Linked DNA regions of Homo sapiens: region 2 is reported to be linked to region 1. The links are microRNA targets in miRTarBase. Many come from high-throughput screens and were not tested one by one. Region 1 holds a microRNA gene; the other region holds the end of a gene's coding sequence.

Region 1 (5,388 bases):
GCCCACTGGAGCAGTAGTGGAGAACAGAATGCTGGCAACTTGAGACCCTGCACATTTTGGCCTGATGCTTCCAACTTTCATATTTAAATTACTTTTCTTTAACTTTCTTAGTTCTTTTTCCGACCATCAAACTGAAGGTCTTAGAGTCACAGAGTTGCTTTATTTCCATTTAACCAAGAGCAATGTCATTGTAGTACAAAAACAATTCTTTAATGTAACTGTCACTTAAAAAAATACCGGGGAAATAATTGTAGCCTTCATTTCTCTCTGCCTTGTTCTGTACTTAGGTATGTGACACTTTCCACCATAAAATTGCAAGTCCTTAGTCCCATTTCTTATTTATTCATCTCTGTACCCTTATGTCTATCATGTTGTAGGTTCTGCATAAATGGATTTTGAAGTGATTAAAACCACCATTATTCCTGGCTCAATCAGCTGGTTGAAGAAGCAGCTCTCCTATTTCACCTTTCCTCTCTCTTCCAGCCCCATTGCAATCAGAAGATTATTTATGGAAAAAAGCAAAATGGAGATATTTAAAAGACGGAGAGAGACAGCAGAAAGCTGCTTAAGAAATTGCTTTGAGTCCACAGGAGGGAAGCACAAAGGAGATGGGATAATAGTGTTATACACTACATGGTAAGTGTAATAAACTCCAAGCTGGGAGGACAGCAAGGGCACTCTGTGTGGGTTAATTGGTGCCCTGCCTACGCTCGAGAGAGAATAAATTTTCAACCACATCAAAGTCTTCTCCAGAAAAAAAAAAAAGCTCGTTAAAAATCCCATTTCCAGGAACCCTGGCAGCCAGACAATAAGAAGGCTAAACAACAACAACAACAACAACAACAAAAATCACCTCTATTTGGCCTACTACTCCCTCAAACATTAAACTATTTGCCTTGAAAAGAACAAAGAAAGTATGTAAGTAATATGTTTAAATTCAACGTCTTAGAAAGTGGAGTGATTTAGCTAGGGTTGGCTTCGATCAATCTGAGACCTCCCAAAGCCTCAAAATGTATTATTTAGAACTGTGAAAAAATTCACCTTTAGATACTCCTCTGTCCTGTCCTCATGAAATATTTACAGTGTGGTACATAGATGCATACAAAATTGTACAACTCATGATGGGGAAAAAAGGCAGATTGCATTCATTTTCGATGGAAGAATCGGTAGTTCATAGTTTTTCTCCCACAATTTGCCTCATTTATCCCAAGATTGTGTATCACTGTGAGCTCACTGATGGCAGGGAACATACCTTACTCAATTTTTAAGACTTTTACAATTTGGAATAATTTTAGATTTATGGAAAAGTTGCAAAGATATTATAGAAAATTCTCATATATCCTTCACCCAGCATCCCCTAACATTATCATTTTACATAACCAGGGTACATTTGTTAAAACTAAGAAGTTACATTAGTACAATGCTATTAATTAAACTACAGACTTTATCCAGATTTCGCCAGATTTTCCACAAATATCCTTTCACTATTCTAGAATTCAAGCCAGGATACCACATTCCATTTAGATCACTGTTGCGTTTAGATCATTTTTGCATTTAGATCTTATTCACTTTTATATTTCTGGTACCCAGGATGGTGACTAATAGGTACTCAATGTATATTTGCCGAGAGAACAAGCCAGAAAATACAACTAGAATTGAATGCTCAGATACTGAAGAGGGGACTGGGGTGGGGGCCATGGAAGTAGCAGACCTGGATCTAGCACTCAGCAGGGCCTACTTCTGTCTCAAAAGCTTCAAAAGGGTGGAGGGGGCAGGAGACAGTTTCAATGAGCTGAAGAGTGAGTGGGAAGAGGAGACTGAGTGTAGAGAACTTGCAAAGCAGATTGTCAATGAAAGCAAAGGCAGAAAAGATACAGTAATTGAAGGAGAATAAATGTCATAAAAGTAGTTTTAGGAAAGGGAATAGTGAGCTGTTTTGTAGTCTGAGAAAAGGGAAACTTGAAACGGTGGGGGTGTGTTGGGGATTGAAGACCCAGTAAAGAAGAGATGATTGCTGAAATAATGCCCAGGAAAAAGCAGGGGGAATATGATTTGGAGTCTAGGTGGAAATGGGGTCTTGCAGAGACTTATGAAAATTATTGGAATATCTGCTATGTAGTAAGGAAAATTAAATCAACTAAGAATGAAAGAAAAGAATGACATCATTATTGAAAGCCCAGAGATAATCAGGTTATTATATTTTGGGTCTGGCACTAATGACACTTAGTGCCACTCTTAGACTGCCAGACTCCCTGAGGACATGCAGTTTCAGGGAGTCTGGTAGTCTAAGTGTGGCACCAATGCGAGTCTTTTTAAATTCACTTTTTCATTTCTGTTCATATGACTACATCATCGGTCAAATCATTTACTTTGTCCCAGGATTTGGTAACAGGCTTCATTGAATTCATAATGAATAACTTTTGTTTTGTGTTGGGATTCCATAGAGTAACTTGGATATATTAACACTGGAATTTTTCTACGTTGTTTATAGCAAATTATTCTAGTACTATTTATCCTAATAAAAACAGTAACTATAATCAGAATTTTTTGAGCAGCTACTATGTTATAGCAATGTACTAGACATTTTGTGGACTCTACAAGACATCTCCATTTTAACTGTGGGAAGAGTCTTGGAGAGAGTCATTCTTTCAACAAGTATTCATGAAGCATCCTCCATGTGTCAGGTTTCACCTGAGGCAATTGGGATACATCAATGAGAAAGTGAGACAAAGATCTCTGACCTATGATGTCACATTTTAGCAGAAAATCCAAGTGGGTAAATGGTTTACCTAAATTCACAAATGTAATAAGTAGCTGCAATGACCTTTACTAATTTTTGGCTGCCTTGTGTCCATTTCACCTTCTTTTGGAGGGGAATTTTACTTTCCCTATTTGATGCAGTTTTGTAGGAGTGTTAGTCAAGGTATCCTGTTTTCCCTAATTCCTATACACTACGTATATGAATAGTCTTGACTAGGCCAGTTGAATGCTTTTTTTTCTCTGAAATATGACTCCTGTATATAGAGAAAAAAGTACTGAGAATCATTGAAACTTATCCACCCTTCTAGTTTCCTAAGATTTTTTCTAAATGAGATCCCTTGGTGTGTTTATAGGGTTTGTCTTTTCCAAGACTAATTTACTAGACTTCCCTTCAATTCAGAGAGCTCCTCCAAAGCATTCCATCATCATCATCATCATCATCATCATCATCATCATCATCATCATCATTTTTGCTTACACTAGCTTTTGTTAGTTTCTGTTGCTTACTATCAGGAACCTGGATTTGTGATTCCAGAATCAATCCTTTGACTACACTTAGCTTCACTAACATACATTCTGTGATACATTGGAATTCCTGAGAGATTGTCCAAGGATTTTTTTGTTAGCATATATATTCTGACTGGAAAATTTTCTGTCTTTAGACAGAACTGGGCATTGACTTATCTGTGTTTCTTGATTTTGAGCATGACTTAGAAAGGATGTCCCCTGCTTCATTTCTCTTGGGACATGTAACAGACTAGACAGAATACCCAGTCAGCTTTTACTCAGTTGGCCTTCCTACCATTGTGGAATTTGGCATTTACAAGTGGTTGATGCAATGTTATTTCAGCATGGGCCCAGTCAACAGCTCCCACCACCTCTGGAGACTTCCATCGCTAGAATCTTACACTGCAGACCCTGTTCATTGATATTCAGGTGACACAAGCACAAGAGGAATAGCTGACATTGCTGTCACTTGCAGGGTCATCCTATATTTGTAGAAACATGGAATTATTGTTGCTAGCCTTGCTGCCTTGCTGCAGCATTGTACTAACCCCAGGGCACCATTCACATTGTAAGCATCATGAGTGGCACTCCCAGAGTCCGAAAATGATGCCTGGTGTGGAATTGGCTTCCTGTCTATTTCTTCCTGCTTGGCGTGTTCTCCTGGATGCTGGCCCAGACTTCTTTCTTAGGACTCTGCATGGCTGCTTCCTCATGCCATCTCTAGTTAAGGCTCAAAACTTAGCTCTACGCTCAGAATTTATTTTTCTCATCTGTTTTATCTAAGAGCTAATTCCTGGATATGCCATGTGTGTGCAGAAACTCTCACTACTCTTCCCCCTTTGCCTGCCTGACTCCTGATATTGCCTCTCCTTGCTTTCTCTGTTGGGTGCACCAAAGACCTGCTCTACCAGTACAGTTCTCTGTAGGTGTAAGTTCAGGCCCACTTCTAAAATTGGTGGAGCCCAGTGCAAGGCTACAAGTGAGTGCCCACATGCTATGCTGTCTAAATATTCACAAGTGATACTTCAAGCTAATAAAATACCTTCTATCCACCTACCTTGACTAATATATCTTCATAATGACTTGGAAGGTCAGGGGTCTTGGACTTCTGCAAGTTTTGCTTCTGAACATAGCAGCAGGGAGAACCTGTCTTGCAGTTCATATTCTGGCTCTGCCTTCTCTTCTCACTCTAGGTCTGTCTTATACAATGAGAGGTCTCACATGCATGTGTGTGGAAACTCTATCCCATATTTACAATCCCCATTCGCATCCCCACAAATGGCTCTCTATTGGCCATTCCCTGGGCCTAAGGATGTTCTTGTCATTGGTGTGTTCTGTTCTCAAGAGACAGGGCCTAGGGAAGAGGCATTCTCTGGCTCTAGAAGTGAGCTCAGGGACACTTTGGCAGAGAATTTTGGGGTCCAGGTACAAGAAGCCTGGTCTAGAGGGAGAGAAGCAGGTTGAGGGTGAGCATATACCCTTGGCTCCAGAAAGGTCTTGATTTGTGAGAAGGAAGATGGCTAGAGAAGGCCAGGAGTCTTCTTTGCCCAAGCTTAAGTATGCAATGGTAAAAGGTAGAGCCAGTCTCATGCTTCTGTAACGCTGGGAGTACAAGCCAGTTTAGCCATGCTCTTCCTCTTCACAAGGGACATTTTGGGGCAATGGGAAGTAATGGTTATCTTTATACTCGAGGAAAAACTGTAAAATATGGTGTTTCTGACCTACTTCTCAGAAGGTGGTGATCATAAAAAGTATTCCATTGTCTCTGGATCTTGAGGTAGTTATGTAAGCAATATGACTAGCTGTTTTAGAATAGTACTGTGGACACAAATGCCAAGTCCAAATAAGAAACTCTTCAAATATCACGTGTAGGGGAGAAAACTCTACATTGCTCAAAACTTCAGTGGATAAATTCACTCTTAATTTCATGCAAGAACAAATGTCAAGTTGCTTTACAGCTACTTTGTCTTTATTAAATTTAATAATCATTTGTTGAATGTCTATTATGTTTTGAATTCTAACTGGAATGCTATAGAACTAGATGATAAAATGTGAGTTGTACCTTGAGGGATAAGAAGGGCTTTACTGGGTGAGTAAATTGGAAGAATGTCTTTGAGAAGC
Region 2 (5,388 bases), not on the chromosome of region 1:
GTCTGTATGACCCTTACTGAAGGAACAAAGTTATCCCAACATTTTTATATAGGAATCTGAGTTTCATTTAAGTACAGCCGTTATTTCTGTGAAACATAAATTGAGTAGTATCAGGAAAGGCAGAGATCAATAAATGCAAACCACAACAGAAAGAAAGTGACGGGTAAAGAGGAGAGATAATGATGGGAAGGAGAAAGAACGTGCCAAAAACTTATCTACTAGGATAAAGAGAACAAGATCAACAGCTAAATGCTGGAGTTAATTCCAAAACTGAATTCAGCCCAAGGAAATAACCATTTGGTGAACTTCTGGACAAGAAACTGAGGCAAGGATGCAACGAGTCCATTTTAGTAATTAGAGATGAGAGATTTATCCCTGAAATGTGGCATACAGCTAGCCAGCAGGAAAATGAACCTGGTTTAATTAGAGGAGAAAAATGACTAATTAGTCCAGAAAGTCATCATGGCAGAACCAAAAAACTAGACTGATGTGTTAGGTTAAGCCTAGCTGTCTTCTAAAACAATGCAGTGTAACTTTAACTTTCCTACTATCTAGAAAAGAGAAAACTCTGCATTTTCTTAAATGGTATTGCATTTAAAGGACTGGTGGGCATATATGCTGATGATCCAATACAGAGAATTATTGAACAGCACAAAGAAAATAGGGTGAAGACCTAAGATCATATCCAGAGAATGGGGGCCCTTCCTTCATCCTTCGGCTGACCTGACACACACTAACTCGCTTTTGGTCATAAATGAAAGACAGTCCTTTTAAGCAAACGGCAATATACTGGCTCTTGGGTTCCCAAGTAGGGTGGACCCACTGAAGAGTGAGCAGGGCAGACATGCAGTGAGCCTCAGCATCACCTGCCATGTGGGACTCAGGTTCCTCCAGGATTCTGTCCATTTCTTCTGCCTGCTTCTTCTCATCACCCAGCAGCTGCTCCAGAGGTTCTATTGCTGATTGATCTTGAGTTTCACAACCTGGAGTTTCCACCACAGAGATGGACTGTATCTCTTCTTCAATTGCAGCTGGGAAAACTCGTTGGGGAGAACTCGAATTTAACCTTGCTTGGGTCACTCAACAAAGGTTGAGAAAGTGGGATTGCCTAAGAATATGGCACATATTTACAGTGTGTGTATGCTGGGGAAGGAAAAAGATGAGAACAGAAGAAAAGCCGGTAATTCATTGTAGGATAATTTCAAAAATAAAAAGTGCTGCTCCTAGAAAAAGAGGGTGCCCACGCAGACTAAAAATTTTTAAATGTATCACTCAGGCATTAGATGCTGGAAGGAAAAAGGTTTTGATCTTCTAGAAACATTCCAGATAAAAATGGATTTTTACGACCAGCATCTCTTATTGGGTCATTTGGTCCAGAAACTGATATCCCCAGCTGTCTGTGACAATGCATAGAGCCCCAAATCAACAGTCCATCACCTGGAGAGGTTTCTGGACTCTAAATCCCTGGGACCAGTGATGCCTGTGGTTTTTGCTGATTCCCAGTAACTGAGTTTACTTTGTGCTTTCAGCTGAGCAAAATGTTCTGGTGATTCTACTTCTTCTAGTTGATTCTTCAGAGTCAGAGAAATTCACAATCTCTCTATGACAACAGTAAAGGAACCTTTTGTTAGAAAATCCAAGAGTCACTGACGACATCAGCTCGAAAGTGCTATTTATTTTATTACCCATTATGAATCAGCCATCTCCTGATTTATCTTTTACAGTTTTCTATGTTTTGAATTGATATCAATTCTTAGAATAAAATGCAGTACCTGCATCTAAAATAGAATTTATTTTTCTTGAGACACGTCTTTCAGGCAGAGGAAAGGTAATGGGCACACAAACCTTGATCATCTTCTTATAAAACAAGGCAGCATCCACATTTCAATACTGTAGCATATGAAATAATTTCTCAATTCCTACTCTGTCATAGCTTAAATGACTTACTGATTAAAATATGAGTAACAATAATTCTGGAGCTGAAAGACATTCTCAAGCCAAAAGGTAACATTAAACAATGTTTTACTTTAAATTTAATGTCATGTAGGGTCACTAAAAACAAAATGTAAGGGATAAATGTAAGTGCATAAAACAGAGATAATACCAATTTCCACAAATACAACTTTTATTATCCAAAATCATCTTGGAAGGACTTTTTCTAATATGCCCATTTTCTAAATAAGATTAACCATTTGATGGGAATATTTCCAATTGTATCACCTCCTTCCTTGACTTTTTCTTCATCAACTTAGGGCCTGGGTTGTAGGCACTGTGGCTCTTTGGGATAGTTAAATGGGTGCAATTTGGCTGAGACCGCCCCTGTCTTAAATGGCCCAGGCTACAGGGCTTGCCAAATGGCTTTGGTTTGCAACCTCTTCCTTTGATATCCATTGAAGAACACATGTCCTACCCTCTTGATTGCAAGCTTCTATCTGCTATTGGCTATCAGGAGCATAACAGATAAGTTCTAAGGTCCTTCCAGTTCCAAAAGCCATTGACCAACCCTGTGAGGCACTATGAGAGATTGGAGATTACTGAGGAATCTCTTCCAATAACATATGATATATAAAGGTAATTGTGATTCTATGAAGAGTGAATAAAAATTGAAAACAAAACCAATCTTGTTTAAACTATTAAATGAAGTTTTAAAAAATAATGGAGTGGGTAGATGTATTGCCTATCAAATTAAAATTCAGTGAACACGTGTCAGTTATCACCTTCATAAGTATGATCTATAAGGTTGAATTAACTAAAGATCTAACCCTAAACTAAGTGAGATATTACTGGGTTACTAAATATAGATGAATGGCTTCCTTTTTCCTTTAAAGATGGAAGAATCCCAAAAGTATGCCTGAATCAGAAGCAGAGGACTCATGTTCTAATGACACGTCTGATCATCACCCTGAGTTCCATAAAGCTATAGCATATTGTAGTAGAAAGTATATCAGCATGTGAGTGGAGAGATTTAAGGGTATAGATCTCTACGTATTTCCAGCTCTGTCACCAACTGGTAACATGACTTTGGGCAGAAACTGTCTTATTGATTCTATTCCCTTACTTATAATATAAAGGAGCATAACTAGATAAGTTCTAAAGTCCTTCTAGCTCCAAAAGGCATGATTAACTCTGTGAGGCACTGTGAAAAAACTGGAGATTATGAAGATGAATCTCTTCCAATAATATGATATATAAAGGTGACTGGGATTCTATGAGGAATTAAATGAAGACTATAAGTGCACGATCAAAAGAAAAACTGTAACAGAACCTACTAATCAACTTAAAATAATCTGCTCCAGGTTATAAAATCTGAAAAGTACTATAATGATTATTCTTGTCATAACTGGTCCCACTAATATAATTTTTAAAACCTGAGAGCTGAAGTCAGAGTACATACTCACCTCTTTCAAATTATATGTGTGTATGTGTGTGTGTGTGTGTGTGTGTGTGTGTGTGTATGTGTGTATTCCTGAGTCACCATGAATACCTTTAAAAAATTCTAGAACTTTGGGCCAGGCATGGTGGCTCATGCCTGTAATGCCAGCACTTTGGGAGGCCGAGGCAGGCAGATCACGAGGTCAAGAGATCAAGACCATCCTGGCCAACATGGTGAAACCCCATCTCTACTAAAAATACAAAAATTAGCTGGGCGTGGTGGCAGGCGCCTGTAGTCCCAGCTACTCAGGAGGCTGAGGCAGGAGAATCACTTGAACCTGGGAGGTGGAGGTTGCAGTGAGCCGAGATGTCACCACTGCGTTCCAGCCTGGGCGACAGAGCAAGACTCCATCTCAAACAAACAAACAAAAACTCTAGAACTTTGATTAAATTATATTTTTTGGGTCTATCAATTGAAGTGGAATTGGACTGTGGATTCCTCTGTTGAGAAACCTGTTAGATGTTTATTTGGGTGCTGACACAATTAACTACTTTTGTGACCACAGCCAACTGTAACATCTATGGTGGTGATAAAAATAAAAAACTCTGGCCAGGCGTGGTGGCTCACGACTATAATCCCAGCACTTTGGGAGGCTGAGGCAGGTGGATCACTTGAGGTCAGGAGTTTGAGACCAGTCTGGCCAACATGGTGACACCCTGTTTCTACTAAAAATACAAAAAAATTAGCCAGGCATGGTGGCAGGCACCTGTAATCCCAGCTACTTGGGAGGCTGAGGCAGAAGAATTGCTTGAACCTGGGAGGTGGAGGTTGCAGTGAGCTGAGATCACACCACTGCACTCCTCCAGCCTGGGCGACAGAGTGAGACACGGTTTCAAAAAAAAAAAATAAAGAAAAAAGAAAAAAGAAAATACAAAACTCAAAACTTTTTCTTTGTTAGACTTGATGTCAAGATCAGTGGGATCAAGGAAAAATTAGGTCTAGGGGATTCAAGCATATTGAACTCATGATCTGTAAATTGTAAATGACAAGGATCTCTTAAAATAAAGACCTTTCTCATGATAAAGGCACAACCCAATAATATAGTTAGCGTTCATCTGCATTTCTCCTCTTCAACTTGATCCAGATGCCATTACTTGGACGAAGAATCAACTGTCCTTCTAGACCAAGCTCTTCTCTTTTCTGGTTGGATTCTATCCAAAAGTGCCTCAGGATGCACGAAAGAATGGTCTTTTCTTCCATCACAGCAAACTTTTGACCTTCAAATTAATGTAGATACCATCGCTTTAGTTATAGATTTACCCCAAATGTGAGAAACAAGAGGTCCTGTCATAGGAAGCGAGCCACTTTACATTTTCGCAGTAGGTGGAAGGAGAACCAGAATGGCTTGGAACACCTGTTAAAGATGAAGAGTCTTGAGTTTCCCTCCCTGATCCCACCTTGCACATCTATAGCTGGGGAGGATCAGAGAATTTGTACTCCAGCTGATCCAGATAAATCCTGAGCTCCTTCAAGCTTGAGACTCACTACCCTAGATTATGTCTTAGTGGGTCTTTCATTTACTATGGATTCACCAAAAAAGCTTCAGATTCACCCGTTTCACTCTGGCCTCATTTTACCGATGTCTGCATTTACATAAATGACAAAATGCTAGAGATACTAAAACCAAAAGGGTTTATAATGCAGGGTGGTGATGTGCATTCATTTTGCTTAAGTACTAGCTGGCCATATGGCAAGCATTTGCTGTTTTGATTTGCAAAATGAAATTCTTAAAAGCAATAAACACAAAAATTAGGTTAACCATAAGTAATCATTAATAAAGTTTTTACCACAATAAGTTATATTCTACTGTAATTAAAACTCTACAACATTTTGAAACTCTACCATGAAGCTAATTATGTTTTATGTTATGGGTAATTGTGTCTCTCTCCAAATTCTAAGCCCCCCCCATACCTTAGAATATGACTGTATTTGGAGACAGGTAATCGAAAGAGGTC

The links. Region 1 holds the annotated microRNA hsa-miR-7702 (CUUAGACUGCCAGACUCCCUGA, at 2,235-2,256, shown strand). A microRNA usually pairs through its seed, bases 2 to 8, with sites in the 3' UTR of a target mRNA and lowers its output. Matches are read on the target gene's strand: a 7mer-m8 pairs with bases 2 to 8, a 7mer-A1 pairs with bases 2 to 7 and ends in A, and an 8mer does both.
Region 2: miRTarBase lists CYP4V2 as a target of hsa-miR-7702. Seed matches in the 3' UTR shown: 7mer-m8 at 4,328-4,334.

Annotation. Positions count from the first base shown.
Region 1 is chr9:111,268,061-111,273,448 of GRCh38, reverse strand. It overlaps MIR7702 (microRNA 7702), which reads left to right and starts at 2,235; the gene lies at 2,235-2,293. LOC105376219 (a long non-coding RNA gene) reads left to right here. Exons shown (of 2, transcript NR_188622.1): 2 at 484-906.
Region 2 is chr4:186,209,731-186,215,118 of GRCh38, reverse strand. CYP4V2 (cytochrome P450 family 4 subfamily V member 2) reads right to left here. Exons shown (of 11, transcript NM_207352.4): 11 at 1,656-4,650. The coding sequence ends at 4,478. It also overlaps a transcript of KLKB1 not described here. Among named protein-coding and RNA genes, the nearest start is that of KLKB1, 15 kb to the left of the region's middle.